Linked DNA regions of Homo sapiens: all the other regions are linked to region 2. Evidence: fine-mapped expression QTL. A gene starts in region 2. Each other region holds a variant in brackets. All regions are shown on one strand. Distances are between the middles of the regions.

What was found. PIP is the estimated chance that this variant, and not a neighbour inherited with it, causes the effect.
Region 1: its variant is the best candidate, but not a certain one, in a credible set for the expression of UTP18 in whole blood (INTERVAL, PIP 0.87).
Region 3: its variant is the best candidate, but not a certain one, in a credible set for the expression of UTP18 in whole blood (INTERVAL, PIP 0.77).
Region 4: its variant is the best candidate, but not a certain one, in a credible set for the expression of UTP18 in whole blood (INTERVAL, PIP 0.89).

The regions. Positions count from the first base shown.
Region 1 is chr17:51,316,606-51,324,640 of GRCh38, forward strand. LINC02071 (long intergenic non-protein coding RNA 2071) reads right to left here. Exons shown (of 6, transcript NR_110751.1): 4 at 7,028-7,127; 5 at 4,981-5,071. Among named protein-coding and RNA genes, the nearest start is that of LINC02071, 15 kb to the right of the region's middle. RefSeq lists an enhancer at 2,910-2,999. The variant T/G (reference allele first, on the strand shown) is at 4,082.
Region 2 is chr17:51,255,407-51,263,112 of GRCh38, forward strand. UTP18 (UTP18 small subunit processome component) reads left to right here and starts at 5,140. Exons shown (of 14, transcript NM_016001.3): 1 at 5,140-5,520. The coding sequence starts at 5,179. MBTD1 (mbt domain containing 1) reads right to left here and starts at 4,643. Exons shown (of 17, transcript NM_017643.3): 1 at 4,429-4,643; 2 at 3,737-3,800. RefSeq lists silencers at 4,381-4,700, 5,041-5,150, 5,501-5,690 and an enhancer at 6,161-6,210.
Region 3 is chr17:51,363,333-51,371,367 of GRCh38, forward strand. No RefSeq gene overlaps it. Among named protein-coding and RNA genes, the nearest start is that of LINC02072, 31 kb to the left of the region's middle. RefSeq lists an enhancer at 2,767-3,267. The variant CTTTTTTTTTT/C (reference allele first, on the strand shown) is at 4,344.
Region 4 is chr17:51,299,616-51,307,650 of GRCh38, forward strand. No RefSeq gene overlaps it. Among named protein-coding and RNA genes, the nearest start is that of LINC02071, 32 kb to the right of the region's middle. The variant T/A (reference allele first, on the strand shown) is at 4,738.

The DNA of each region.
Region 1 (8,035 bases), 61 kb after region 2:
CTAATAGAAGACTGGAGTAATCTTTTTAGTTTTTGCTTAAAATGTTGCTGATCCTTTGTTTTGTTTTTCAGAGTAAAGGAAACTTCTTTTGGGCTAGTGTTTAACAATTAAGTAAAGTATACTCCTATAAACAAAATTTAGAGCATATTTGCTTCTTGCTACCTGATTTCTCCAGAATTTGGAAACTTTTTGAGAGTATTCCTAACTTATGGCCATATAGTTATTTGCATAAGTGCAATAAGAATCTGTTTTCATTTGTAACAGGACAGAATTGGAGAAACTGGTTGTTTTACCAAAGGCTTGACTGGAATGGCGTGCTTTTCTTTAAGGAATCAAACTTGACTTATAGAGCCAATAAAAACCCCTTAGAAGAAAACTGGCTGCATACCATGCCTACACAGTTCCTGAATAGGGTTCCTGATCTGTGGTAAGTAAAGAATATCACTTTCTGACAGGCCCAGGAGCCCCAAGTTATCTTGGGACCTCAAGAAGAGACGAATTTACTCAACTCATAGGTATTCGATGGTACAAATCCATGACTGGACTTGGCTTTAAAAAGTCTTATCTGAGATTCCTTCTGTGGAACAAAGTTCCATCAAAGCCAATTTTAAAAGCCTATGTGAAAAATAATTATTCTTGCTTCACTTTATAGAAATAGTCTAGCCAAGTATAATAAAGCAAATTGGTCCTATGATTATTTGTCTTTTGTAAAAATTGGTAACAGGAGAGAGAAAAATTATATTTCAAAAACTATAATACATCTGTTGTTAGATTCTAGTCTTGCCTAATATTTTTCAGTTTTTATTATTTTCTACAGTTTGGACTCAATTCTAATTTTTCCTGGCTACAAGTCTCCAAAATAATGTTTTCCATTTTTTTCTTTTTTCTTTTCCTTCCCCCCCCCGCACCATTTTCCTAACGTGAAATAACTGAAAACTAAGCTGTGCTTTCTTAAAACTCTGCAAACTGAAGCTAGACAACTTAAACATCAGAAGAAAATAACAGCAACCATATACATATGTAAGCCACTTTCTTACCTGCTTGTATGGACTTCAGAATAATGTGGCCTATATCAATTTTCCAGGATTGTTCTTTTGTTTTTTGTTGTTTTTCACGATTCCTCCCCCTATTTTCTCTTCCTAGGACATGAGACTTCCCAGCCTGCTAAAGGTGAACTTTCCTGATAACTTGGGACCTACCATCTAGGAATAAACTGTCCTAGCCATGAGAGATCAGATGAAACCTGAGACCAGAGATTCATTTCCTTCTAATATGCTTTCTCCCAAAGCTTTTCAAAAGAAAAGGGGGGAAATGTGAAAGGAAAAAAAATCTTGGGGCCCCCAAATCACTAAGCTAAAGGGAAAAGTCAAACTGGGAACCACTTAGGGCAAACCTGCCTCCCATTCTATTCAAAGTCATCCCTCTGCTCACTGAGATAAATGCACATCTGATTGCCTCCTTTGGAAAGGCTAATCAGAAACTCAAAAGAATGCAACCATTTGTCTCTCACCGACCTGTGACCTGGAAGCCCCCTCCCTGCTTCAAGTTATCCTGCCTTTCTGGACAGAACCAATGTGTACCTCTTACATGTACTGATTGATGTCTCATGTCTCTCTACAATGTGTAAAACCAAGCTATGCCCCAATCAATTAGGGCACATGTCGTCAGGACCTCCTGAGGCTGTGTCATGGGTGTGCATCCTCAACTCTGGCAAAATAAACTTTCTTTTCTTTTTTTTTTTTTTTTTTGAGACAGAGTTTCACTCTTGTTGCCCAGGCTGGAGTGCAATGGCATGATGTCGGCTTACCGCAACCTCCGCCTCCTGGGTTCAAGCAATTCTCCTACCTCAGCCTCCCGAGTAGCTGAGATTACAGACATGCACCACTACGCCTGGCTAATTTTGTATCTTTAGTAGAGACAGGGTTTCTCCATGTTGAGGCTGGTCTCGAACTCCTGACCTCAGGTGATCCGCCCGCCTCAGCCTCCCAAAGTGCTGGGATTACAGGCGTGAGCCACCGCACCTGGCCGGCAGAATAAACTTTCTAAATTAACTGAGACCTGTCTCAGATACAGGCAGACATCAGTGTGTATACATGTAAGGTATACATTGGTTCGGTCTGGAATGCCTGGACAACTTGAAGGGCTGGAGGGTTTCTAGCTTGTAGGTGGATTCAAATATTTTCTAGCTTGGGCGTGGTGGCTTATGCCTGTAATCCCAGCACTTTGGGAGGCTGAAGTGGGAGGATTGCTTGAGCCCAGGAGTTCGAGACCAGCCTAGGCAACATAGTGAGACCTTGTCTCTACAAAAAATTTTAAAAATTAGCCATGTGCAGTGGTGCATGTCTGTAGTCTCAGCTATGTGGGAGGTGGGAGGATAGCTCGATCCCAGGAATTCGAGGCTTCAGTGAGCCACTGCACTCCAGCCTGGGTAACAGAGTGAGCTCTTGTCTTTCCTCCTGCACTGTTAGAAATAAATTTATGGTGCCGCAAAAGAAATAGCACTCGAACATGAATTTTCTCAGCAAGGCAATTTTACTTCTATAGAAGGGTGCGTTTTGCAGATGGAGCAATGGCGAGAGCACAAGGGAGTGGAAGGGGTTCTTATCCCTGACACAGGTAGCCCCTACTGCTGTGTTGTTCCCCTTTGGCTAGGGTTGGATCACACAGTCTAAGCTCATTCCAGTGGGCTATTTTAAAGAGAGCAGGGGTATGAGCTGGAGTGGCAGGGAGAGTAGTTTGGCAGGAAGGACAGTTACAGAACAGGTACAAGATGACTAAGAACAGAGCAGGTGACCAAGGATGACTAAGGTCGGAGCAGGTGACCAAGGGTGACTAAGGTCAGAGCAGGTAATAGAGGCTAGGAGGGGGTTGTTTACTGAAACTAGGGACAAGGAGATGTAAAGAATGAGGAAGTTAAGCTTTAAAATGAGGAACAAAGAACAGGGGAGCTGAACATACTGATACATTGGTTCTTTGGAGAGGATCTCAGAACTCATTGTACTTAACAATTTATAGGCTAACACCTTTGAAGAAGCATTATTATATCCTACATGTACCATCCCCCCTGCAAAAAAAAAAAAAACAAATATTTTCTGATTGGCAATTGGTCGAAAGAGTTAAGTTATTATCTAAAGACCTGGAATCAATAAAAAGGAAGATTTGGGTTAAGATAAGAGGTTGTGGAAACCAAAGTTCTTATTATTGCAGATGAAGCCTCCAGGTAGCTGGCTTCAGAGAGAATAGATGGCAAATGTCTCTTATCAGACCTAAAAAGCTGCCAGACTCTCAATTAACTATCTCCTGGATCAGAAAAGACCAGGAAAGGGAAGGGGATTCTCTACAGAATATGGATTTTTCCTACAAGAGAGAGCTTTGCAGGGCCATTTCAAAATATGTCAAAGAAATATATTTTTGGGTAAAATACTTTGAATTCTTTCAGGGCCTGCTATCTGTCATGTGATGCTATATTAGGGTCAGGTTGGAATTTGGTATCTTACTGCTACAAAGAGTCTGTTTTGTCAGTCTTAATATCTCTGTTTAATGATAATGCTGATCAGTTGTGCCTGAATTCCAAAGGGAGGAGGGTATAATGAGGGATGTTCGACTTCCCTTCCTATCATGGCCTGAACTAGTTTTTCAGGTTTATTTTGGAAATGCCCTTGGCCAAGAGGCAGCAGTCCATTCAGTCAGTTGAGGGGTTTAGAATTTTATGTTTGGTTTACAGAGTAAATATGAGGTGAGGGCTAAAAGCACATTTTCTGAGTCCCAAATCAAGATACATGGGCTAACTAGGGATTTTTGTGCCATTTTCAGATGTGAGACGCTGTCTTGGAGGCATGGTATGAATGTAGACATGATGAAAATTCCGAGGTATTTTGATGGTTTTTGGACAGCAAGTCAGAATATTTGGAATTGGGACTATTTGGGGGTTTAAATTGTAAAGAAGAGCTTGAGAGGGAATGTTGAGGCACAAGGACAGATTAACTATAGGTAGCTGTAGACAAAATTCAAGTCAGTTTTAAAAATGATGAGTTGAAAATAAACCATGAAACTGAATTAGCCAGCAGCCGGCAAATGCATT[T/G]TCTCATTGACACCTAAGCAGTGATAAAATTCCCTCATTGTAGATCCTACCTCTTCTTCAGAAAGCATATATAGGCTTGCCTATATGCTTTCTGTAAAATAAAATCAAATTCCCAAAAGTTCCAGTAAGGTTATATGCTGTTATTTTTATATACCTCCTGTTCTCCCCCAAACTCTTGCTTCCTCAAATGCAACATCTTCCTTCTGTTGCCCTCATCTGGATTTTCAGATCATCCATCCACCCACCCATCCCTCCTCCCATCCACCCAATGAGAATCAATGGACTTCCTGTGGATGTTAGGCACTATGTGGTTCACGCTGGATTCCCAGCACTCACAGAGGCAAAGTCATGGATTAGTTAATTACAAGTTGGACAAACATGACCAAAAGAGAAAGGCATAGTGCTTTGGGAGCATAGGGCAAGGAAACAGGACCTGGTCTGAAGGGTCCTGGAAGTCTTCCTGAGGAAGCCATGTTTAAGCTGAGTTCAGAAGAGTGAGTAGAAGTTGGCCAGGAGTATTTCATGCCAGCGCCTTCCCCTCACCCCATTTCTCCCCAAGCCTGCTCTCCCTTGTCCTCTGGAATTCCTTGTCCTACTGTGAAAGCTCCCTGTGCATTTATTGACTGCTTCTCTTTTTCCAGCCCTGGGTTCTTCCTGAAGCTCCTGGGTCTCCAGTGGGTGTCTGCTCTTTGATGGTTCTGCCCACCTCCCCATTTCAGTTTGGCAATAGAATGCTCCTGTGGGCTGGGTGTGGTGGCTCACACCTGTAATCCCAGCAGTTTGGGAGGCCAAGGTGGGCAGATCTCTTGAGCCCAGGAGTTCAAGACCAACCTGGGCAACATGGTGAAACCTGTCTCTCAGAAAATTAGCCAGGTGTGGGTGGCCCACTCCTGTAGTACCAGTTAATCTGGAGGCTGAGCCCAGGAGGTCAAAGATGCAATGAGCCGTGGTCCTGTCACTGCACTTCAGCCTGGGTGACAGAGTGAGACCCTGTTTCAAAAAAAAAAAAGAAAAAAATGCTACTGTGACTCTTCCTTCTTACACAATGCTCTAATATGACTTTTAAAGGACACGGTAATCATTTTGTCTTATTTCCATGGGGTAATCATTTTGTCTTTTAACTTTTCTTATCATAGAATTGCTACATTGATAAGGCGTTTAGCACTGGGTCCCACACAGGGTAAGTTCTTGATATGTATTATTACCCCTACTATGATTTTTAAAAGACTCTGACCGTACATTGTATGTAACAGGCACTTCATAACTGCTTACTCATCTTCCCTTATCCCAGTGCCCATGGGCCAGTTAAGGCAGAGAAGATAGGGTTGTAGGAATCAAATGTTTATTGAGTACCTTAGAAGTCATCCTGACAGTGAGAAGGCTTTGTCCAAGGTTAAACGACTTGTTAATTAATGTTAGAGCTGGACTTTGGATCCAGGTCTTCATACTTGAGCATAGGTGTCCTGATTTGTATTTTAATGCTCTTTCTATGACAGTACCCCATGCTCTTCCAGTCTCTTTGTGGAGTCCCTGTCTTTTATCACTAGAAAGTGACAAAGGCCTTGACTCTGTGCTCAAAAGTCTTTTTTTGTCTCCTCTGCAAAAAGTGGACTCTCTCATGCAATCCTAGAAACTGGAAATTCTCTCTAGAGAGCATGCGTGGCTGTCTCTCAGGGATGGGGTGGGAGTTGGGGGAGGATATAATGCCCCCTCCTGCTACTTAGCAGAGTCTGTCTCGTCTGAGTGAGCATTTGGAGGACTTTTATCATGGAATCACCCTACATTCCTCAATCTTTGCTTACAAGTGCCCTTGAAGCATCCCTCTGCTTCACTTTTGGAGGAATTGAGTTATAGGTGACAGTTCATACCTACTGCCACCTTCTGTTGTAGAGTGTTAAGTACACAAGGTCTTTCTAGAGATGTGCTCTAGGAGGCAGTATGGCATCAGAGTTAAGAACACAGAACCTGGAGTCAGTCTACTTGGGTTTAACGTCAGCCTTAACTTGGGCAAATTATTTAAACTCTCCAAGTCTCAGTTTCTTCACTGAGGGACAACAATCAAAGCTACTTCAGAGGGCTGATGGAGGATTAAAAGGTGCTACGACATATAAAGCACATGGCCCACTGCCTGGCACATAGCAAGCATTCAATAAATGCCAGCTGTTATTATTTTCTCATCTGATACCTACAGCAGCCTTGGGAGATAGGCAGGGCAGGTGTTATTAACCCTTCTATACCCCTGGGAAGGCTGAGTTTCAGAAATGTTAAATGACTTGATCTGAGGTCACAGAGCCAGTGAATGGCAGTCAGGACCCCAGGTGGTCTGACTCTGAGTTCAGTGCTCCTTCTCCCTCTGAGTGGCCTCTGAAATGAATGGTATTTCCCTTGGGGACCTGCCTGACCAACTTTCATGTTTGTGAATTCTCTTTCCTTCCAGCTTCTCCTCCTTTTGTCAGAATTCTGCCTGGTGATAGTTTCCAGAAACCCACCAGTCAAAACGCTACCTGTTTCTGTGAGGCCAGGATGCAGGCCTCTCAGGAGGATTCAGGAGGGCTACTCAGTCTCTGGAAGGCTGGAGGGTTCCTGCTCATGCAGTGAGTACATTGAGCCTTCAGCTGGGAGTTAACTTAGTTGTCTGTTGGGTGGAATTACCTTGAGTCCCTTCAACTTGAAAGAAAACCTAACATATATTTGTGCATTTGAAAATTGCAGAATGATTTAATTTTATATCAAGTATTGTAATATATATGATATTACTGGAAAGATACTAATGAGTTTTTACTTGCATTTTATACAAAGGATAACTTCTTATTCAAGGCCTCTGGGCCTCTTGCTTTTACACATTACCAAGAACATTCCATTTTGTTCAATAAAAGCATTGATTTCATCCGTCTTTGTTGTCCGATAGGTTGGCAGGGTAGGGCTATTGCTTGCTTATTTTCTTACCTCTGGAGTATTCACTTCTGAAATGAAGGGGTGTTTCACTTGTGGACTGGGTGATGCTGGGTAAGTTGCTGAACGTCTCTCTGGGCCTCAGGTGCCACATCTGAAATGATGATTCTTATCTCACAGACCTGTGTAAAGGGTTCAAGCACTGTCCCTGACACTTACTAGGGGCTTGGTCAGCCTGAGTTTATCTTATGTGTTTATCTTTGTCCTTCACATTTATCCATCCACAGTAACATTAATGACTTCATTTGCTCCAAACCCATGAGGCACATGGGACCAGTATGAATTTGAAATAGAAAAGGATATGGCTAAATTGCCTTATAAAAACCTTTATCAGTTTATACTACCATCAACTCTGTGAGTGAAAGTTCCCAATTTACTTAAGAATACTTCAACTTTTTATTGAAAAATAAAACACAGATACAAAAACCCACACCTAACAAATGCACGGCTTAATGAATTATTGTGAATGCCACGTGAGTTAAGAAGTAGAACTTTGCCACCCACCCCAGAACCTGTGCCCCTTTCCCTCATCCCAATTGCCTACCCCTCTCTCTCTATAAGTAGTCACTTTCTTGACCTTTGTAGTAATCATTTACTTTTTAAAGTTTTTTTAAAGATCCAAATGCGCATCTCAAGATACTCTAGTCTTGCTCATTAAAAAAAAGTGATAATTTTTTAAAGCCGCGATTATTCAGTAAATTCTTCCTCCATCCCTCTTTTTTTTCTTTCCAATTTGCCTGTAGAAGAATTCAGGCCTTTTGGCTTGTAGAGTTTCCCATAGTCTGGGTTTTGCTGACTGCATACTCATGGTGCAGTTAAGCATGTTCCTCAGTCCTCTGTGTTTTCTACAAATTGGCAGGTAGTTCAGAGACTGGATTAGAACTCAGGTTCAGTTTCTTTGGCAAGATTGTAGGTGGTGTTAGGCATGATTATAGGAAGTGCATAATATCTAATGGTCTCTTTTTATGTTTGTAACCATTCATACGTACTTTATTGAGGGCT
Region 2 (7,706 bases):
TTGGAACTGGTTGCTCAGAAGATATAAAATCACTGAACAATAGTAACTACAGGGTGTTAATAATTAAACAAAGATGGGTTAAACACATACAGATACACAAGGGGGCTACTTCTCTGGTGTATAAAATAATCTCTAGCAAATTTTAAAGCTTAGAAGTCTTAAAGTAATAGATGATGATAACCTTTTTTTTTTCCTTTTTTTTTTTTTGAGACGGAGTCTCACTCTGTCGCCCAGGCTGGAGTCCAGTGGCACAATCATGGCTCACTTCAACCTGGGTCTCCCACCAGACTCAAGCAATCCTCCCACCTCTGCCCCCGAGTAGCTGGGACTACAGGGGTGTGCCACCACACCTAATTTTTGTAATTTTTTTTTGTAGAGACAGGGTTTCGCCATGTTGCCCAGGCTGATCTTGAACTCCTGGGTTCAAGCAATCTGCCTGTCCTGGGCTCTCAAAGTATTGGGATTACAGGCGTTAGCCAACACACCTGGTTAATATTAACCAATATTTATTGAACGATATATACAAATCACTATGCTTAGCACCAGAAATACAAAGAAGTATTAGACTTAACATTCCTGTCCTACAATTAAGACTGCAAACGGTGGCCAAATAATTGGGCCACAACGTTGAACAAACTAATGAGTATTATATACAACCAGTTTTAAAAGACTAGTAGTAGGAATTAAACATAGTGAAAAAGGAAAAAGAAGGAAAGCCTGGGAACACATCTTAACATTTTATCTTATGACTTGTCTCATCTTTTATAGCAGCTTACTTTTTTTAAACAGCGGGCATAACATCTGAGTGGAGGTTTACAGAAACTACAGGAGGCAGGGCTGATGTTCACCCTGTATTTCAGATGAGGAAAGTGAAGCTTTCAAAGAGGTTACACAACTCACCTAAGATCGCAGTTCAGAGAGGTAGCTTGCTGACTTTGTCCAGAGCTCACTTCTACTAGACTAAATTCTAAATTATCAGTGCTAAAGTGAGAACTCGAAGGGACCTCAGAAATCTCCTAATGGAGTGTTTCCCTAACCAACCTGATAAACTTTCTGGGGTATACATTAAAAACACATTCCCAGGACCCACTGCAGACCTACTAAATAAGTTATAGGAGAGAAGTTTAGTATTTTAACAAGAGCCTCCAAGAAGTGATTATAATGATTAGTTATGCTTAGAAAACAGTGTTCTATGTGTGTATGTCCAGTATGCCAGACATTTGGCTACTTAAATTTACATTGCCTAAAACAGCAAAATTAAAAATTGAGTTCTTCAATTTTTAGTTCCACTAGTTACATTTCAAGTGCTCAACAACCACATGTGGCTAGTGGCTACCGTAACTGGACAGCAAAGATATAGGAAATTTCCATCATTGCAGAAACTTCTATTGGATTATGCTGATACTAGACTAACCCTTCAACTGCCATGAGAAAATGGAGGCACAGGATCTTGTCCAACAAGGGCCATGGAGCTACTCAATGGCAGAATTGTGACATCAACCTCACTGCCAGCACCCCTCTTATTGTATCACTTCATCCTATCTCATATTCAGGGTTTGTTCAAATGGGAATTATTTCCTTTTCACCTTTTATTGTGGGTTCCAGCAAAGCAAGAAGAGAAATCCTAAATTTGCAGGTAAAAAAATCCTTAAGCCAAGGTTTATTAAAAAATAATGATTAAATCTATGTGCAATTTTTGCCTGAAATCAAAAGTCATCTTGCACAGTTAAGAATACTGTGGTGTTAGGAGAAATATCTTAGCTTGTTTTAACTATTGTAAGTCCTTTCTCTTTTATTGTCCTGATGTTTTTATTCTTTCTTGAATTTTGAAACCCTCAGACTAATGATACATAAGTGTGAAAGGTTATATCTTATTTAGCAAACATTTTAAAGATGAAAAGCTGAGAAACAAAGAGCAACCCAAAGAATGTCACTTGTCTAATTTTAGAATGTGGTTACTCAGACTACTGAGCACTCTTGGCTTTTAGTAATTCAGTGGTTTAGTATTTATCCTAATATGTTGTTTTCACTTTTAAACTATAGCTTATATTTTCCTTTGATCACTATGTTACATTTGAAAACAATTTAAAATGTTGTTTTAATTTTCAACATTATTGAGGGACCAAAAGCAGCACTAGAACATCTAGAAAGGTTTAGATAATAAGGTCAACATATAACCAGCTTTAAAGAATATGGCAGCGTCTTAAAAATAAAACCAGTTGTTCCTGTCTAGTATGTTTAGAATGCAGATGTCTCCAAAGTCAGTCAACTTAAGTCATGACAGTTCATGTTTAAAGTAAGCAGGAAAAAAACTTGGAACTCCTTATTAATTAAAATGTTAAAAACACTATTATTACACCTCTACTGATTCTTTTTCACAAGCTGAATTCTAATGAGTAGATTTAGAGGAAATATTTTATGTCAAACATTACATAAAGTTAGAAACTGGATGGTTAAAAAGCATGACGCAACAACGTAAGGCACTATGAATAAATACTTATTCAAGACAGATGTTGCCATAATTTGCAAGGTACTCACAAGCAATCAGTATGGGGTTTTAGATAGATAGAAGCTACTTGTTATTCAGAGAAGGAGGTGGTGCAAAAAAAAAAAAAAAGTACAGCTATTTTCTTTCTAAACACTCTGGTGTTGAGGTAAACAAATGAAAAATAAAATAACAGTCTAAGTCCACAAGAGCAAAGCAACAGTCTCTAAGTTATAAGAGGAGGAGAGAAAAATTGAGTCTAACCTTTTAAATAGGAGACTGGGGCTTAAGGTGAAATTTATTTGCTGGCTTTTAAATCACATGCATTATTTCTACATTATACCTGTTATGTCTTGACACCCACTTCACCACATTAGAGAGTAATAGGTATATCCAAGATTCTTAGGCCAATAAAACTACTTTTAGAGGCAGCATAGCTCACCAAATGAAGGAGAATGTTAGAAAAACACCCAGTGACAATAGTTTCAACTATCTCAACCACCCAGTGATAAGTACTGGTGCATGCTAATATAAGGAGAATTAAAAATATTGTAAACTCTAAACAAGTATTAAAATGGTTCGTAAATTTCAAATCTCATAAAAGATAGTTACTTAAAAAAAAAAAAGAAGGAGTAAAAGCATTTGGAAGAGAGGCCCTTGGAGGAAAGACTAGCTTCCGAGGAACACAGGTCAAATACGGGTGTGGGCGGTAATCATCTAATCATCCCTCTACCAGGTGATGCTTCTAACCACTTCAGTTTTAGACATCCTTAGAAGTGATTTAGGTAATAAACAAATGTGTTTTGTGATACAAGAACCACGGAGATGACGCTGAAATTTCTAACTTCAAAAAGATGCACTCCTAAGAGAAAACAGGCACGAAATTCCCATATTGTAATTCTTTAGCTTCCTGTAGAAAAACATCTTCAGGCATGTAAGCCAGCACACTTGACACTGACCCAGCAAAGTTTTCGGCTAGCCCTCACTATCTCTCAACCCCCCTTCCTCCACTTCCCTGCTGTTCTTTCTTGGCACACAAAATATAGGCCAATGAGCAGTGGGTGGGTGAGGAGGATGTGAGAGAAAATTTGAGAAGTAAAAAAAGGAGCAACTTAACCAGGACATGAATGAGACTGAAGGGTCTAATAAGGGTAGGCAGACAACAATTAGAACTACTGAAATATGGGCTTTCCTGGGCAGTAGTGAGCTCTCAGTGCTTTTAGGGGTGTAAGCAGGGTTCAGACTACCTACCACTTGTCAGAGAGGCTGCAGAGGGGACGGCTGCTTTGGATGACCTCTAATGTCTCTTCCGACTCTGAAATGTTAGGATTCTTATTTCACAAAGGAGAACGCAATGGTCACAGAAGTCCACCGACTTGAAACCCTTTTAAATATGCAGCCTTGGAGGCTGCTTCCCAAACACCACTCCCACCTCTCCCGCACGTGCCCACCCCGCCCCCTTTCAATATTTCCACCTCCACGTGCAAACCGCCTCGCGGCACTGCCCCCAAGGCAGATAGACACCTTCCCCTGCAAAGCAACGAAACTGTGCTCCCCCTCCCCGCCAAGAAGAGAGGACTACTCCACTCTCCCACCCTGGGTGGCTAAAAAAGGAAAAGTCTCGGATCCAGCCTTTCCCCCCTAGCCAGAGCAGGGGGCGGGGGCAGGACGCAGAGAAAAACTTTCTTCTCGAATTTTTCTTCCAAAGGGTGGAGGAGATGGAGAGAACCCCAACGAGTCCAAGGCTGACGGGGTGGGGGGAGGGGAACCCCTGAATCGTTTAACGGCTGGAAGGGGGAGGGGGGCTCCGGAGGTTGAGAGGGCGTGGGATGGAGAAGCAGGCCAGGGAGCGGGGTCAGGGAGCTGCGGGGTTCCTGGGGTCGGAGAGCTGCAGGCGTCCCCCCCACCTGGCACACAAAGCGGCTGCCGCGCTCGGCTCTCACCAGATCCTTTGTGTTTTCCATCAGGGCCTCATGGGTAGGGGTTGTCCGTGCTCCCCGAGCCCGCGGCGCCCCCTCCCCGGGCTGGGGGCAGGTGCCTCTCCCCGGGACTGCGGCGACTACAGGGGGCCCCCGGCTGGGCCCAGACCGGTGGCGGGTGCAGCAGCCCCCGGATTTCCCCCCTTTAACTCGGGTGGCCCCAGGATATCAACAACATTAGCATAGCCCTCCCTCCCCAGCGCGCCTGCGCCGTGACCCGCGCCCCGATTGGCCCACTTCCCTACATACCCTCCTCTCTCGCTTCCACCGTGGGACCCTCTGCAGGCTCCGTACTCCAAGGACCGTACCAAGACGAAGGGTGGAAAGCGTATTGGGGCTTGTGTCAAGTCAAGTGGTTACAGCCAAGAGGAAAAGCAGAAGTTCCATTCAGCCGTCCCAGTGTATAGTCGGGGTTTCTTGCGCTCCTTTCAATATGTTGCAGCTGCGAAATTGTGTTGGAAAAATTTTCCACTCCAGTCACGCCGCTTCCCCCTACACCCGGAAGATTGGCCCTCCCGGAGGAACTCCCACACGGGGCGGGGCTGGGTAGGGGAGCGGGAGTTACGTAGAGGGAGGGAGTGCTGGTCACGTGGCAAGAGGCTGCGCAGGCTCCTTCCGGCCCCCGGGGCTTCGGCGGCGGCGGCCCGCGAGGGGCCTGGGCGCATGCGCAGCGAGGTTCCACGTGAGCGCCTGCGTTTCTCCTCAAACCTAACGATGCCGCCGGAGCGGAGGAGACGAATGAAACTGGACCGGAGAACCGGAGCGAAGCCGAAGCGGAAGCCCGGAATGAGGCCGGACTGGAAAGCCGGAGCGGGGCCAGGCGGGCCTCCCCAAAAGCCTGCCCCTTCATCCCAGCGGAAACCGCCGGCCCGGCCGAGCGCGGCGGCCGCTGCGATTGCAGTCGCGGCGGCGGAGGAAGAGAGACGGCTCCGGCAGCGGAACCGCCTGAGGCTGGAGGAGGACAAACCGGCCGTGGAGCGGTGCTTGGAGGAGCTGGTCTTCGGCGACGTCGAGAACGACGAGGACGCGTTGCTGCGGCGTCTGCGAGGCCCGAGGGTGAGGGAGGCCGCGGCGCGCGGGCTGGGCGCACTCGGGCGGGGCGCGCGGTGGGCGGTGAAGCTCCGGGGGGCGGAGCCTGGGCGACCTGCGGCGGCGGGGAGCGCTCAGGTGGGAGGGAGCCCGAGAACGCGGGCGCGGAGGGTCGCAGCTGCGGGTCCCTCGCCTCCCTGCTCCAGACTGAAAGTGCCTGGAGGGCGGGGACCGCGTCTTTCTCCGCCCCTGGAGGCGCCGCTGCTCGGGTATCTGCTTTGCGAACTGTGGTCGTGAGCATCTTTCGCTGCTGCTCGACTCCGCTAGCCTCTTCCCAAACTGAGGGTGGTCTTTTGATCACCTGCCTCAGTTCCTTGTGATTCAGGAATTCGATTTCGTTGATGGAATCAATTCGTGGGCACGGGCCTGGGCATCTCCGTTGTAACTATGTCCCCATGTGACTATGAGACCCACCATGTTTTGAGAATGATCGTGTATTCCGTTCATTTAGCAAATATTGGTGAACCTGTTAGTTGCCAGATACCCTTTCTGGCAATGGCAAACCCTGCGTGATTGATCATACTTTTTGCACACATTTTGCTATCCCTTTAAATTCTATACCAGGCTTTTCTTGAGAGAGTCCCGGACATTGTTCTAGGCACTGGAGGAGACACAGCAATGGACAAAACTGACAAAAATCCCTGCCTTTTGGCGCTTGTGTGCTAGTGGCAGAGACAAGATAGAGGAGATAAACGAGTAAACTTCAGGTTTGTTGGTGACAAGTGCTGAAGAGAAAAAAGGACATTCGGGAAAGGGAGATGGGCGTGTGTAGAGGCCTGTGAAATTTTAGATAAAGGGGGCAGAGGAAAGCTCACCGAGAATTACCCAGGCCATGTTTATTACACAAATGCTGACCTAGTTAATGTCAGCTGCTTACCAGAGCCGCCTTCGGGTGCTTGTAGGAGAAGTGGCAGCAATCTTTTTGGGAAGTACAGAACTATTACTGGAAACATGCTGAACTGTGCGACGGTTTTGTCGTCTGGAAAAGGAACAGTGTACGGAGGTGGGAGCTGTTGGGTTTGAAGGCTATTAGACTAGTAGTAGAGCAAGTAGAAACCACTTGGACATTTCTATCATTGGTTTTGGGAAGCTCAAACTCACTTCAAGGGATATTCTGTGGTCTAGGTTTAGATTTTTTTTTTTTTTTAGACTCGCCCTGTCGCCCAGGCTGGAGTGCAGTGGCGCCATCTCGGCTCACTGCAACCTCCACTTCCTGGGTTCAAGCGATTCTCCTGCCTCAGCCTCTGGAGTAGCTGGCATTACAGGCGTGCGCCACCACGCCTGGCTAATTTTTTTTTGTATCTTTAGTAGAAACGGGGTTTCACCATCTTCGCCAGGCTGGTCTCAAACTCCTGACCTCGTGATCCGCCCGCCTCGGCCTCCCAAAGTGCTGAGACTACAAGTGTGAGCCACCGCACCCGGCCTAGGTTTAGATTTGATAGTATAAACTTTATGGTATAAATTTATAACTTTAGAATTTAGATTTAATGGTATATTTATTTTTTACTTATTTAGAGATACGGTCTAACTTTGTCACCCAGACTGGAGTGTAGCGGCACCTATTAGTCTTCCATCTCCCTTTTGCTAATAGTAACTGGTTGCTCTTCTTGTTGGTCACAGATAAATTACACCTGCACAATTCTCCGAACACTTTAAACTCAGAAGTCAGCTTCATCCTCCTAGGCTCAAGTGATCCTCCTGCCTCTGCCTCCCAAGTAGTTAGCTGGGGCCACAGGTGCACACCACACACCCAGCTAAATTTAAAAATTTTCTGTAGAGACGAGATCTCCCTATGTTGCCCAGGCTGGACTCGAACTCCTGGGCCCAAGCAGTCCTCCCACCTTGACCTCCCAAAGTGTTGGGATTACAGGCATGAGGCATTGCGCTCTCTGCTGGTATAAAGTTTCTTAAGGAGGTAGGGGGTCAAAAACAGATTGGGAAAATGGAGATATCTTTGACTCTAGTTTGCCTCCGGTCCTGTAATTTCTGTAGTTCTGACATTTCTCCTCCTTTTTTCATCTGCAGACTCATCTTTTGTTCTTGTCTTACTTGGTGTTTTCCTTCCTGCGTGTTGAGTGTTGACTTTTTCTCCTTGACTGTTCCATCTTGCCTCACCTGTCCAGTCGGTGCCATTCTCTGATTTCTCCATTTTC
Region 3 (8,035 bases), 110 kb after region 2:
GTGGGTCACTTAGGGAGAAGCCTTCCTTCTGGGCTGCTGACAGCTGCTGGGGCCACGCGGGGGGGTCACTGCTTCTGTGGACTTGGCACAGGCAGAGTTAGGTTTTGATCCCACTGCTCTGCTCTGAGAGCTGCTGTCTGGCTGCTTATGGTGCAAGGACTGAGTATCTTCGTGTGTCACCCTGCAAAGAATTTTCCCTGCCGCTTTACTCTGGACCCAAAGCTCCTTGAAGGAGTGGTCAGCTGTAGTGCTGTCATGTTGAATGCCGACAAAGGACTGGAAAATCAGAAAATGGGGTACAGGAGATGGGAACCATCTTTGTTGATACCTTGTATTTGTAGGATCTCCCAAATATTAACTCCCTAATCCATGACCCTCACTGGTATTTGCTTCCCAGCATTGCCATAGCAAAGCACCACAAACTGGGTGGCTTCAAACAACAGAAACTGACTGTCAGTTCTGGAGGTTAGATGTCTGAAATCAAGGTGTCGGCAGGGTCACACTCCCTCTGAAACCTGGAGCAGGGAGAGTGCTTCCTTGCTTCTTCTTTGCTTCTGGTGGTGGTGGCAATTCTTGGTGTTCCTTGGCTTGCACCTATGGCATTTCAGTCCCTGCCTCTGTTGTCCCAAAACATTCTCCCCTTGTGTATATGTGTGTTTTTTAATGAGACCAGTTATTTTGGATCAAGGGCCCACCCTATTCCAGGATGACCTTATTTTAACTAATTACATCTGCAATGATCTTATTTCCCAATAAGGTAACATTTTCTGGTACTGGGGTTTAGGAGTCTATCATTTCTTTTTGGGGGACACAATACAAGCCATAACATCACTGTAAGTGAGATGTCGTCATCCTGATTTTTGTAGGTGATAAAACAGACTCAGAGATGTTTGTGACTCCTGAATTTCACATAGATAGCAAGTGGCAGAGTCAGAATTTAGGGTGTAATTCACCTGATTCCAATACCTCTGTGCTTTCGCGATAACAGCTTTTCCATTCACAGCTTCTGGAGCACCTGGGGCAGAAGCACCTGGGGTGGGGAGTGTGTGTTAAACACACCTGAGCCTGGGTATCTGTATTTTAAATGAGCTGCCCAGATGCTTCTGAGGCATGCTAAAACTTGGGAACCCTTGCATTACATCTTGATTCCTGTCTCAGGCTAAGGGAGGTGGGGAGTGGAACAGCTGCTGATTGTTCAGATGGAAAGTGGTGGTGGGTGGGTAGTAAGAGTCTAAACTGGCATCTCTCAAACTTTACTGTGCACATGAATCATCTGGGGATCTTGTTAAAATGCAGATTCCGAGTCTAGGGGACTGAGGAGGGAGCTGTGATTCTGCATTTCTAACAAGTTCCCAGGCGATGTTGAGGCGGAGGCTGTGTGGACCACACTTAGAGTGCAGGTGTCCTCGATAGGACATGATGGGTGACAAATCGAGGATGGATCCTCAATTCTACCTGCACATGAAGACCACCTGGTGGCTTTTTGACACTTGAATCTCCAAGTCCCATCCCTAGAGACGATTGGTATTTTTAAAAATCTCCTCGAGTAATTCCACTGTATGGCCAAGATTAGGAACAACTATTTTTAAGCAAGGTGAGGGATGTCGGGATGCATATGCAGACAGGGTGTCAGCTTTTTTGTAGTCCTGCACTTCTTCCTTTGGAAAGTCTCCGTCCTGCCCCACTGACTTGTTGCTGCTTATCTGGAGGCTGAATTCAGAGCCAAAGAATGAGGTCTGGTTCACTTGGCTGGAGGGGATGGGGCAAGGGCTGTTCCTGTGCCCCACTGTCGTTTATGCCAGAGCCCTGAGTGCTGAGTTTTCCCAGGGGCTCTGAAAATCAGAGTGGGTTGTTGTTTTCTAACTGGGGTTCAGGCCTCCAATTTCCTCCTTTAAAGCGCCGCCTGCCTCGCCCAACAACTTCCTGACTCAAGTCTGCCAGCTCACTTCCTCTACTTATCTACTCCAGCCTTGGGATGGCTTCTCTGATGAGTCCTGCCGCACCCATTGTCAAGTTCATGACTACGCCAAAGGTCATGGTGAGGTCCAGAGGGAGCGGGTGGATGAGCAGAAAGAACACTTGGGGGGTCGTAGGCAGGTGAATTATTTTATTCAGCAGCAGCTCTTACCAACAGCTTTCTCACACTGTCCACCCTGTCTCAGCTGCTTGGTCCGGCGGCCCCCGCACACAGCTGCATGGCCTGCTCTCTCTTGCCTTCAGGGTCAGCAAATTAACCCTTTCTCTCTCTGGGCACCAGCATGAGCTGTGCCGCGGCTCCCCTCTGTCCATCTTGCAGATGGACAGCTTTGGCTCTTTCTCTCTTTCTCTGGGTGCCAGTGCACCTGTGCAGTGTCAACAGGGCAATTATACCTTTTATAGACAATAGTGGTGTAGAGCCAAGCGATGGCCTTCCCATCTAGTGATGGCTACATGGCTATGATAACAAGTGGAGTTTTACACCTGTGCTCTGAACTCGCTGAGACACACAGGGATGTAAACATCTTACCTCGGCCTATCCTTGACCAAAGCACAGCCATGTTCCTTACACCCATGCAGTTCCCATTGGGTAGAAACAGCTCCAATGTGCAGTATGTGGACTGTGCTTATTTAACCCTCCTCCCCAACAGCCCCTCTCCCCACCCCCACATGTTTTACTGGATTTGGCCCCAAAGTTTCTGATTTTAACCATCGTACTGATACAGAGGGCTGGGCTCCCAGCTAAACCCCATTCTTAAGCCTGGAACTGCCCCTTAAGTGAAAACAGCTGACCCCATTTTTCCGTCCAACTGTTGCCTTTTTGGCCTGCCTCACCCATATCCTGTGCCCATAAAAACTTTAGCTGGCAGAACAACACAGGCGGCTGAGCATCGAGGATACAAGTGGCTGAGGAGTGAGCAGAGAAGCAACTGAGCATCAGAGACTATGGATAGGTGTGGCTGACTTCAGACAGTGTGGCTTCAGAGAGGGGCCCGGCCGGAGATGGCTGAACTTCAGGGAAAGATCACCTTCCCATCCCCTTTCCAGCCTTCCTTTCCACTGAGAGCCACCCACTACTCAATAAAGTCTTCCGCACTCATCACCTTTCAAACAGTCCATGTGACCTGATTCTTCTTGGACGCTGGACAAGAACCTGGGTGCTGAGAGGGCAGAGGCTGCCACCCTGACCCCTGAGCTGGTTGGCACTTGGCTGATCCTGATGGCAGAGCTGAAAGAGCGCTGGTTGTAACACGCTTGGACGCTGCTGTGGGGCCCACACAGAGCCTGCTCCCACCAGAGAGGAGTGACCAGCCAGTTCCAGTTCCAGTGTTCGTTCGCTCAGGTTCCTGCATTCGCTCACTCACACTCTCCCTCCTGCGAGGAGTGGCCAGTGGTGGGCTGAGTGAAACGAGACACTCCAGTTCCTGCCCGCAAAGGGGGTCAAGTGAACTATCCCCTCTCAGCATTTTACCAAAACTGTTTATGAGACCCTGTGGTGGTAGTAGTTTAGAGCAGCAGTGGTTGTGGGGGACATTTTACACCTGTGTTTTAGTTTTCTTACCTGTAAAATGGAGCTAATGGTAGCATCTGTCTCATAGCACTGTGAGTGTGTGGGATGAATTGAATGGGATGATTTTTGCAAAGCATTTTCGGGCAGTGCCTGCACGTGAAATGTGTCTTCAAGGCACCGGCCAGCCACAACCTGGGTGAGATGGAGCTTCAGGGCCATCTGCTGCCCAGAACTCAGGACACTGCTTTTCTACATCTGTCCCTAGAAAGGGACAAAATAGACAGGTTGGTAAAGGGGCCTTTGGGTCAACTCATTCCTCACCAAGATCTATCTTTTTCTTTCCATTCTTCTTCCTTCTCTGAGTTTAATTTTTTTAAAGCCAAACTTCTGGAGTAAATTAAATTGTTTAATGAGATAATATGATGTAGTGGTTAGAAGCATGGACTCTGGAATCCACTGACTGGCTGTGCCATTTAGAAGGTGTGCCATCTTGGGCAAATACTTAACCTCTCTGTCTCAGCTTCCTTATCTATAAAACAGGGATCACAATAGTACCTGTCTCCTAGTGGTGTTGAGATAGTGCAGATACAGTGCATAGGGCAGAGCCTGGTGCTTAGAAAGCACTCAGTTTCTATCACCTATTACTGACTGCAAGCCTGGCAGCATCCCTATATTATAGGATTTCACATCTCCTTTAATCCCACAACTGGAAGAGGTATCACCTCTGCTTCACAGTTGAGGAAATGGGGGCTCAGAGGCTTGGAAAATGGGTTAAGATTATATAACTAGTAAGTAGTGGAGCTGAGATTTGAACCTTAGAATTTTAACTAAGAAGCCTGAGGTCTTTCTTTCTTTC[CTTTTTTTTTT/C]TTTTTTTTTTTCAAATTATACTTTAAATTCTGGGATACATGTGCAGAATGTGCAGGTTTGTTGCATAGGTATACATGTGCCATGGTGTTTTGCTGCACCCATCAACCCGTCATCTACATTAGGTATTTCTCCTAATGCTATCCCTCCCCTCGCCCCCAACCCCCTGACAAGCCCCAGTGTGTGATGTTCCCCTCCCTGTGTCCATGTGTTCTTATTGTTCAACTCCCACTTATGAGTGAGAACATGCAGTGTTTGGTTTTCTGTTCTTGTGTTAGTTTGCTCAGAATGATGGTTTCCAGCTTCATCCATGTCCCTGCAAAGGAAATGAACTCATCCTTTTTTATGGCTGCATAGTATTCCATGGTGTATATGTGCCACATTTTCTTTATCCAGTCTATCATTGATGGACATTTGGGTTGGTTCCAAGTCTTTGCTATTGTGAATAGTGCTGCAATAAACATATGTGTGCATGAGTCTTTAAAGTAGAATGATTTATGATCTTTTGGGTATATACCCAGTAATGGGATTGCTGGGTCAAATGGTATTTCTGGTTCTAGATCCTTGAGGAATTGCCACACTGTCTTCCACAATGGTTGAACTAATTTACACTCCCACCAACAGTGTAAAAGCATTCCTATTACTCTATGTCCTCTCCAGCATCTGTTCTTTACTGACTTTTTAATGATTGCCATTCTAACTGGCGTGAGATAGTATCTTGTTGTGGTTTTGATTTGCATTTCTCTAATGACCAGTGATGATGAGCTTTTTTTCATATGTTTGTTGGCCGCATAAATGTCTTCTTTTGAGAAGTGTCTGTTCATATCCTTCGCCCACTTTTCGACGGGGTTGTTTTTTACTTGTAAATTTGTTTAAGTTCTTTGTAGATTCTGGATATTAGCCCTTTGTCAGATGGATAGATTGCAAAAATTTTCTCCCATTCTGCAGGTTGCCTGTTCACTCTGATGATAGTTTCTTTTGCTGTGCAGAAGCTCTTTAGTTTAATTAGATCTCATGTGTCAATTTTTAAAAGCCTGAGGTCTTTCTTTTCCAGGGACTCTTAATCTGGGGTCCCTTAACACCTAGTAGATTATTTGTGAGTTTCATTGAGTTTGGGAATCCTTTGAAATTGTTTCAAGAACAGGCGTTTATGTTTTTGGGAAGTCAGGGTCAAGATCACAGTCCATTGTTTTCTTTAGATCCACAGAGTAAGCCACTGCATTATTCCAACTTTCTTATAAGATAGAACAATTATTTAATGAACTCCAAATGTATGAAACTTCCATTGTTGAGATTATGTAAATAATTGGGCTGTAATGCAGCTGGATTCCTAGAATTAATAATTTCCATGTTCATACTCTGTGCTTACCACTCTAGTGCCCCTAATGTCATTTCAGCCCCTGTGTTTCTGGGCAGTCTCAATCAGAAGGATAGCATGCTTCAGAAAGCTTGCAATCACTCTGCAGAGGTAGACTCAGAGTCCTGGGTTTCACTGCTAGCAATGCTTCTAACTCTCGGAGCTTTATCTTCTTTGCGTGTAAAATGTGAGGATTGCCCAGCTGCACTCTGAGTCTCTCTGATGTCTTTCTGATGTGAAATCAAGGTGGAGATCAGGAGTTGCCTTCCTTAAACAAGGGCAGGCATGTTTTGGGTAGACAGAAAAGTGGAAACATAACCAGTCAGTCATTCATCTGCTGCATCTGGGGATGGACCTAAGCTGAGCAGGAGCCTCCCCTATCAGTCCTCTTCTCCTTTCTCCATGCTACGGCCACTACTGAGGACTGTAGAGTCAGAGTTGGAGGAGGCCAAGGAGGCATCTCTTAATTTACCCTGTCATGCTACTGAGCAAACCGAGGCCCAGAGATGGGGAATGCCTTACATAAGGTCACATGGCTAGTGCCTGGATTGGGACTTGAGCCCAAGTTTCCAGAATCCAAATCTGATGTCTACTTACAAAGCCAGCTAGTACACGAAGAGATCTAGAGGCCTTCTCAGGACTACTCAAATGTGACAAATATGTGGTCTGGCAGAATCCTGGGACACATTTCTGGGAATGCTGTTCTCTCTTTCCCAGTGCCTCGTCATGGACATGCCTTTCTGTGGGACGTTCTTACCTGTCCAGGCCTCCATTCACTGCAGGAGGGGAGGGGAGGACAAAAGGAGAATAGCAGCCCCAGGGTGTGTGCCTCTGTCCTGGGCAAGAGGGAGTGTCCATGCCCTTGCTACTTGGCATTCTCCCAAAGGCTGGCTGTTTCTGTGAGCACATTCCCAGCCTGCCAGCCTCTTTTTTTCCCTACAGGTGTATGGGATTCCTAAGGGGAATTGGACATAGCCTTTTATGCCCCATTCTTATGTGGCAGGAACTTTCCTTCCGTCCCTGTGACTCTTCTCAGGGCTCCTTTGACTGCTTTGGGAAACTCTGGGTTTACTCTTCAAATCCTGGATGGGGAAGCCAGAGGGCTGGAAAGCAGGCTGGCCCTGGTGATGGCCAGCTCTGCATCACTTGGCCATCTCACCCACAGTTTGGAGTGGAAAGAGGTCCAGTCACCTGACTGTGGGTTCTGGGGAGTCAGAGCCAGGGCAGGTCCGTGTTCTGCTAGGGGCTGGGAGAAGGCCTGCATCATACACAGTTAGTGGGCAGTACATGAAGGCAGTGAGGAGGTGTGGTATGCCCGCTGCCTTTCACAACTGCAGAAATGGTCACTGATTTCTTTCATCCTCCTCAGTGGCCTTGAAGCCCCTGGACAGAGCAATGCATCGGTGCTGGCTCTCAGAGATTTGTGCCAGCAGCAGGATGGGTTTTCTCTCCTGATTCCGTTTCTCCCTGGTTGGTTATTAGCACACCTTTTTCCTCCTGATTGAGAACAGCTCAAGTGGGAACTGCTACAGCTAGGGGCAGCATCTCTGGTGGCATGCTGGTGGCAGGGGGAAACCAGATGGGGAGGAAGAGCCAGTCAGGAGACATGTGGCTAATCACCTGTGGACCCAGGAGGATTCAGCTACTCAGTTCCTAGCCTCTCCAATTATGGATTCCCTATCCTGTTCTTTTCACAGTTCATACTTTTTTCTTTAAAGTAAAAAGTAACATGCATCACCATCTGTGAAAAGAAGGGGAAAAATAAAACTGAAAAAAGAAGGTAACATGCGACATTAAACATCCTTCTCCTAAAAGTATATCTCGCTATCTGCCCGTTCATCCATCCATCATTAACAGTGGCTGACATGTGAATGTTTACCAAGTGCCAGGCACTGTGCTCTGAGGTTTGCAGAGGAAGTCCCTATAGCCATTCTGTAAGAGATGCCACTGTTGTCCCTGTTTTTAAGGTGAGAACATAAGATACATGGAGGTTAAGGAATTTGCCTAAGGTCACAAATTAGGAAGTGGCAAAGCCAACCAGGAACCCCGGCAGCCGGGCACCAGAGCCCAAGCTCTGAACCGCTACTGGGCCATCTGCTTCTCTGCTTGTCAGTGGCATGGAGAGATGGCTGCAGGGACTTGCCCCGTATACTAATGCTGGTAGTTCAGAGTGGCTGCATTTGGGGTGACTTTTGACTTTAGTCTTTAAATTCTTCAGTCATGTTTCAATTTTTTTTTTTTTTTTTTTTGAGACAGAGTCTGGCTCTGTCGCCCAGGCTGGAGTGCAGTGGCTCAATCTCAGCTCACTGCAACCTCCGCCTCCTGGG
Region 4 (8,035 bases), 44 kb after region 2:
CTCCCCCACATCCTCACTAATAGTTAGTGAACCGAAGAATGATTAGTCTTACGAAGACGTTTCCTCTGTTTAAACAAAGTCCAGGTGAAAAGTCATTTGCCTTACCGATGGACGTTAAGTGTGTGCGTATGTGTGTGTTTCTGGTACGGATATGTAACCTGTTATAAGCTGACCAGCTGAAGGGTTTGTAGGCATATCTGCACCTCCAGTTTGAGGATGGGATGGAGGCAAGCAAATGCCCATGAAGTCAGGTGCTGGCTCACAGCTTCGAAGAGTTCTTAAGCTACTTGGGATGATACTTAAATGCATCTGCAAAGTCATTACACAAGAAACAAAGCATTTTCCATTCTTTTAAACTGGAGGAAATGGAGGCTGGCGGAGAAGGTAGGCTGTGGGGATGTGGATAGCCTTTCCGACCCCCTGGTGCTGTAATTGTGCTGACATCAGTAATACATACATAGAATCTCATATAATTCTCGTTCCTCTGTGAGGAAAATAACATTGTCATTTTACAGGAAAGTAAATTGAAGTTTCAAGAGATTGAGCATCTTGGTCCCAAAGCCATCATTTTGACATAGATCAGTGGTCCACAAAGCAGGGTTTGCATACTCTTAAGGGTATGAGATACAGCCCTTTAGATTGTGGGAAGGAAATACTAGAACTTCTATGCTGTGTAAAAAGTATTTTTGTCCCAGTTACTCGGGAGGCTGAGGCAGGAGAATCACTTGAACCCGGGAGGCGGAGGTTACAGTGAGCCAAGTTCATGCCACTGCACTCCAGCCTGGCAACACAGTGACACTCCGTCTCAAAAAAAAAAGTATTCTTGTTACATAATGTATTCATACTGTAGATCATAGAGATAACTTAGAAACAGATAGGGTTTTTTGTTTTGTTTTTGTTTTTGAGACGGAGTTTTGCTCTTGTTACCCAGGCTGGAGTGCAATGTTGTGATCTCGGCTCACTGCAACCTCTGCCTCCTGATTCAAGAGATTCTCCTGCCCCAGCCTCCAGAGTAGCTGGGATTACAGGCATCCACCACCACGCCCGGCTAAATTTTTGTATTTTTAGTAGAGACGGGGTTTTGCCATGTTGGCCAGGCTGGTCTCGAACTCCTGACCTCAGGTGATCCACCTGCCTCAGCCTCCCAAAGTGCTGGGATTACAGGCGTGAGCCACTGCACCCGGCCATAAACAGATATGTTTACATTGGTACATTCAATGTACATTTCTTTTTTTTCTTTTGAGACAGGGTCTTGCTCTGTCACCCAGGCTGGAGTACAGTGGCATGATCATGGCTCACTGCAGCCTCAATCTCCCAGGTTCAAGTGATCCTCCCACCTCAGCCTCCCGAGTAGCTGGTACTACAGAGGCACCCCACCACGCCCATCTAATTTTTATATTTTTAGTAGAGATAGGGTTTCTCCATACTGCCCAGGCTGGTCTTGGAACTCCTGGGCTCAAGCAGTTGCCTGCCTCAACTTCCCAAAGTGATGGGATTATAGACGTGAGCCACCGTTCTCACCTCAATGTACATTTCTTATTAAAGGACCACTGGCCTGGGTGCCTGGCTGCCATGCCAAACTTGACACATTTCCACACCCTGTCCTCCACTGTTCCCAAACACTTTTTATGTTCCCTATAATGTTAAAGCTTCTCCATTAACTGTCACATAAGCTAGGTAGTTTAGACTGACTTTAAACTTGAGTTTTTTCTCTAGCCCAATCCCTGCTACAAAGACTGGTTCAAAGCATTATGTTTCCAATTTTTCTCTGTAATGAGTAAGACCTAGTATTTAATGGCACAACAAAGTGACAAAGTGACTATAGTCAGTAATAACTTAATTGTACATTCTAAAATAACAGTGTAATTGGATTGTTTGTAACAAAGGATAAAAACTTGAGGGGATTGATAGCCCACTTGCCATGTTTTATTTTTATTTTTTTTGACAGAGTCTTGCTCTGTCGCCCAGGCTGGAGTGCAGTGGCACAATCTTGGCTCACTGCAACCTCCGCCTCCCAGGTTCAAGTGATCCTCCTGCTTCAGCCTCCCGAGTAGCTGGGATTACAGGCGCCCCCCACCACATGTATTTTTAGTAGAGATGGGGTTTTACCATATGGGTCAGGCTGGTCTGGAACTCCTGACCTCAGGTGATCCACCCACCTCGGCCTCCCAAAGTGCTGGGATTACAGGCGTGAGCCACCGTGCCCAGCCCCATGATGCAATTCTTACACATTGCACGCCTGTATCAAAATTCTATAAACTTAAAAAATCTGACTTGATTACAGACAGAACAAAAAGTTGGCGACAGAGTCAAATTCCATAAAATATTTGAGGGAATTATTCTGAGCCAAATATGAGTGACCAAGGCCCGATGCAGACTCTCAAGAGATCCTGAGAACATGTGCCCAAGGTGGTTGGGTTATAGCTTGATTTTAGATATTTTAGGGGGACAGAGGCATGTAAGGAAAATACATTTTGGGGCCCCCAAATCACTAAGCTAAAGGGAAAAGTCAAGCCAGGAACTGGTTAGAACAAACCTGCCTCCCATTCTATTCAAAGTCATCCCTGTGCTCACTGAGATAAATGCACATCTGATTGCCTCCTTTGGAGAGGTTAATCAGAAACTCAAAAGAATGCTACTGTTTTTCTCTCACCTACCTGTGACCTGGAAGCCCCCTCCCTGCTTCAAGTTGTCCTGCCTTTCTGGACAGAACCAATGTACCTCTTAACATATATTGATTGATGTCTCATGTCTCCCTAAAATGTATAAAACCAAGCTGTGCCCTGACCATCTTGGGCACACATGTTGTCGGGACTCCCTGAGGCTGTGTCACAGGTGCAAGTCCTCAACTTTAGCAAAATAAACTTTCTAAATTAACTGAGACCTGTCTCAGATATTCAGGGTTCACATTTTGGTAACCACAAAGGAACTCTGAGTGGAGGTGCCTCCCGGCCTTTGACAAATCTCCTATTGGTGCTTGGTACCATCTTGAGCTGTCTTGATGGCTCAAACCAATAGGGCAATTTGCTGAGGCCTGGAAGCACGCCCTCCAGAGAATCCCTGATCTCTCAAAATTTGGTCAAGATCTGAAGTTTATTTTGCTTTACAACTCCTTTTTTTCTTGTGAGTTTTATTTGCTTCCTCCAGCACAAGGAAGGCTAGTTTTCCTGCTTCCATGACAAATAGGTTACTCCTTTAGGGCTTTGAGCTTGCTCCCAACAGGGAAGGCAAATTTGAGGGTTTTTTTTCCTGCTTCTAGGATAATAGAGAGCAGTCTCCAGCCTGAGACCTGTCCCTAGGTAAGTAACTGAATTGGGGTTTGTCTTGGCTAAAGTTAAGGTTAACAACCAACTGGTCTTCATTTCTCCTTACCATTAGAGTGCTCAGTAATCATTTAAGTTGTGCAATTGTTTGTTTTGCTTAACGGTTTTGTTGTTGTTTGTCTCTGTTTTTGTTCTTTCAACCTTTTTCCCATTGGGTTTGACCAACTGTATCTGACTTGATCAAGTCCAAAGAAAGTTTCAAATTATGGGGAACAAGCCCTCTGAATTGGCTAAATTCCCAACATACACAAAAAGGTGGACTTGTTATGTAAATAAAGCCCTTAAGTAGTCCAAATAAACAATCTTTCCTTTTTTTTCCCCTCTTGCTGGCTGTTTTTCAATTCCCCCATACTCCCCCAACACCCCCCTTCCCACACACACAAAGGTGGTATGGTGAGGGGAGAAAAATGGCCAGGAAAAAGAAAAAAAAAAAGGAAAGATATTTGATTTTGATTACTTAAGGGGCTTTATTTACATAAGAAGGCCACCTTTTGGCTAGCCAGGCCAAACTGTAAGAGCAATGGCTGTTACCCTACAGTGGAGTTCCATAGCCAATGTTCTGCCTTCTTTTTATCACCACGACAGCCTGGGTTTTGTCCCTAAATGAAGCCCTTTCTGGTTTAATACTTGGTACTTCTGAAATAGCAGCAATTTGTCCTATTTGAAATATGGTAATGAAATCTAAAAATATTTTTTTAAAAGGAGCTCAATGGTTAAAAGTCAGCTCAATTAAAAGCTAACATCGAAGATGCGTGTGTGTGTGTGTGTGTGTGTGTGTGTGTGTGTGAGTGTTTGTATTTTAAAGGCCTTCATTTTTTTTTCCTCTTAGGACCTTGTCTTTTTTTTGAACAAAACCTTTTTTCTTCTCTGTTGACTGAATTCTGTTTTCTTTATTTGCTTCTGCTGTCCTTCCTTTCTCTTGCACCCTCTGCTGCATGAAGACCTAAAATAGTTTATAATAGTCTGAAGTTCCTAAAAGGAAAAAGAGAAGGTATAATCCCAGCACTTTGGGAGGCCGAGGAGGGTGGATCACGAGGTCAGGAGATCGAGACCATCCTGGCCAACATGGTGAAACCCCATCTCTACTAAAAAAAAACACAAAAAATTAGCCGGGTGTGGTGGCAGGCGCCTGTAGTCCCAGCTACTCGGGAGGCTGAGGCAGGAGAATGGCGTGAACCTGGGAGGCAGAGCTTGCAGTGAGCCGAGATAGCGCCACTGCACTCCAGCCTGGGCGACAGAGTGAGACTCTGTCTCAAAAAAAAAAAAATAAATAAATAAATAAAAAAACAGAGAAGGTGCCAGACTCCCTTTTGGGAAATGTCTGTTTTTCCTTATGGAATCCAAAGAGTGTAAACAGACAAGTTCGTCTCAGCTTTCAAACTGCTTTCTTTTGTATTGTGTTACCTGATTTTTT[T/A]AACTAAAATAGTTATTGCAACAGAGGCAACTCTTGGGTTGTTAAGGAAGAATGTAGTTTAGACACTTAGAAATGTCTTTGTTAAAAAAATTTTTTTTGAGTGCACTGGAAAAGCATGAGGTCTAGCCTCATAGTAATTCTCCCTTTTTGGAGATCCAGGATTCAGTGTGGGCTCTGCCCAGAGATCAGAGATCCACTTAAAAGGCAGATAGTCCGTATCTAAATAAAATTGGTTTCCTTATACAATCCTATGATAGATTTCTATAATTTTATGTTTGATTTGGCATCCATCTTTAATCTCCCTCTAGCAACACCAGACTTTTTCTCTCTGTACCTTGAGATGTAAATTTTGTTACCTGATTTTTCACCTAAGAGTTGTTTCCTTCGATATGCAGATTTAAGGCAATTTAGCTGACAACTGCCAGGGTAATGAAACAGGTTATGAAGAGTTTGCAAGTCTAAGACAGGAAAAAAAAAAAGTAGGTCTTATGAATCTATAAGATGTACTTCTACTGGTATGCCTAATATGTCTATGTAATTATGTATTGTGTACACAATGTTTCACTACTAAAAATATATAAAAGCTCTAATTTTCATTCCAAGATGGCTGAATAGGAACAGCTCTGGTCTGCAGCTCCCAGAGTGATCGACACAGAAGATGGGTGATTTCTGCATTTCCAACTGAGATACCTAGTTCATCTCACTGGTACTGGTTGAACAGTGGGTGCAGCCCATGGAGGGTGAGCGGAAGCAGGGCAGGGCATTGCCTCACCCAGGAAGCGCAAGGGGTCTGGGGATTTCCCTTTCCTAGCCAAGGGAAGCTGTGACAGACTGTACCTGGAAAAAACGGGACACTTCCACCCAAATACTGCACTTTTCCCAAAGTTTTAGCAACTGGCAGACAAGGAGATTCTCTCCCATGCCTGGCTCAGTGGGACTCATACCCACGGAGCCTTGCTTAAGGCTAGCGCAGCAGTCTGAGATAGATCTGCGAGGCTGCAGGCTGGTGGGGAGAGGGGTATCCGCCATTGCTGAGGTTTGATTAGGTAAACAAAGCGGCCAGGAAACTCAAACTGGGTGGAGCCCACTGCAGCTCAGCAAGGCCTACTGCCTCTACAGACTCCACCTCTGTGGGCAGGGCATAGCTGAATAAAGGGCAGCAGAAACTTCTGCAATCTTAAACGTCCCTGTCTGACACCTCGGAAGAGAACAGTGGTTCTCCCAGCACGGTGTTTGAGCTCTGAGAATGGACAGACTGCCTCCTCAAGTGGATGTCTGATCCCTGTGTAGCCTAACTGGGAGACACCTCCCAGTAGGGGCTGACAGACACCTCATACAGGCGGGTGCTCCTCTGGGACAAATCTTTCAGATGAAGGATCAGGCAGCAATATTTGCTGTTCTGCAATATTTACTGTTGTACAGCCTGTGCTGGTGATACCCAGGCAAACAGGGTCTGAAGTGGACCTCCAGCAAACTCCAGCAGACCTGCAGCTGAGGGACCTGACTGTTAGAAGGAAAACTAACAAACAGAAAGGAATAGCGTAAATATCGACAAAAAGGACATCCACACCCAAACCCCATTTGTAGGTCACCAACATCAAAGACCAAAGGTAGATAAAACCACAAAGATGGGGAGAAACCAGAGCAGAAAAGCTGAAAACTCAAAAAACCAGAGTGCCTGTTCTCCTCCAAATGATCGCATCTCCTCACCAGCAACAGAACAAAGCTGGATGGAAAATGACTTCGATGAGTTGACAGAAGTAGGCTTCAGAAGGTCGGTAATAACAAACTTCTCCGAGCTAAAGGAGCATGTTCTAAACCATTGCAAGGAAGCTAAAAACCTTGAAAAAAGGTTAGAGGAATGGCTAACTAGAATAAACAGTGTGGAGAATACCTTAAATGACCTGATGGAGCTGAAAACCATGGCATGAGAGCTTCGTGATGCATGCACAAGCTTCAATAGCCGATTCGATCAAGTGGAAGAAAGGATGTCAGTGATTGAAGATCAAATTAATGAAATAAAGCAAGAAGACAAGATTAGAGAAAAAAGAGTAAAAAGAAATGAACAAAGCCTCCAAGAAATATGGGACTATGTGAAAAGACCAAATCTACGTTTGATTGGTGTACTTGAAAGTGACGGGGGGAATGGAGCCAAGTTGGAAAGCACTCTTTAGGATATTGTCCAGGAGAACTTCCCCAACCTAGCAAGGCAGGCCAACATTCAAATTCAGGAAATACAGAGAACACCAAAAAGATACTCCTCGAGAAGAGCAACCCGAAGACATATAATTGTCAGATTCACCAAGGTTGAAATGAAGAGAAAAATGTTAAAGGCAGCCAGAGAGAAAGGTCGGGTTACCCACAAAGGGAAGCCCATCAGACTAACAGCGGATCTCTTGGCAGAAACTCTACAAGCCAGAAGAGAGTGGGGGCCAATATTCAACATTCTTAAAGGAAAGAATTTTCAACACAGAATTTCATATCCAGCCAAACTAAGCTTCATAAATGAAAGATAAATAAAATCCTCTACAGACAAGCAAATGCTGAGAGATTTTTGTCACTACCAGGCCTGCCTTACAAGAGCTCCTGAAGGAAGCACTAAACATGGAAAGGAACAACCGGTACCAGCCACTGCAAAAACATGCCAAATTGTAAAGACCATCAATGGTATGAAGAAACTGCATCAATTAATGGGCAAAATAACTAGCTAACATCATAATGACAGGATCAAATTCACACATAACAATATTAACCTTAAATGTAAATGGGCTAAATGCCCCAATTAAAAGACACAGACTGGCAAATTGGATAAAGAGACAAGACCCATCAGTGTGCTGTATTTAGGAGATCCATCTCACGTGCAGAGACACATATAGGCTCAAAATAAAGGGATGGAGGAAGATCTACCGAGCAAATGGAAAGGAAAAAAAGGCAGGGGTTGCAATACTAGTCTCTGATAAAACAGGCTTTAAACCCACAAAGATCAAAAAAGACAAAGAAGGGCATTTCATAATGGTAAAGGGATCAATTCAACAAGAAGAGCTAACTTTCCTAAATATATATGCACCCAATACAGGAGCACCCAGATTCATAAAGCAAGTCCTTAGAGACCTACAAAGAGACTTAGACTCCCACACAATAATAATGGGAGACTTTAACACCCCACTGTCAATATTAAACAGATCAATGAGACAGAAGGTTAACAAGGATATCCAGGACTTGAACTCAGCTCTGCACCAAGCAGACCTAATAGACATCTACAGAACTCTCCCCTCTAAATCAACAGAATATACACTCT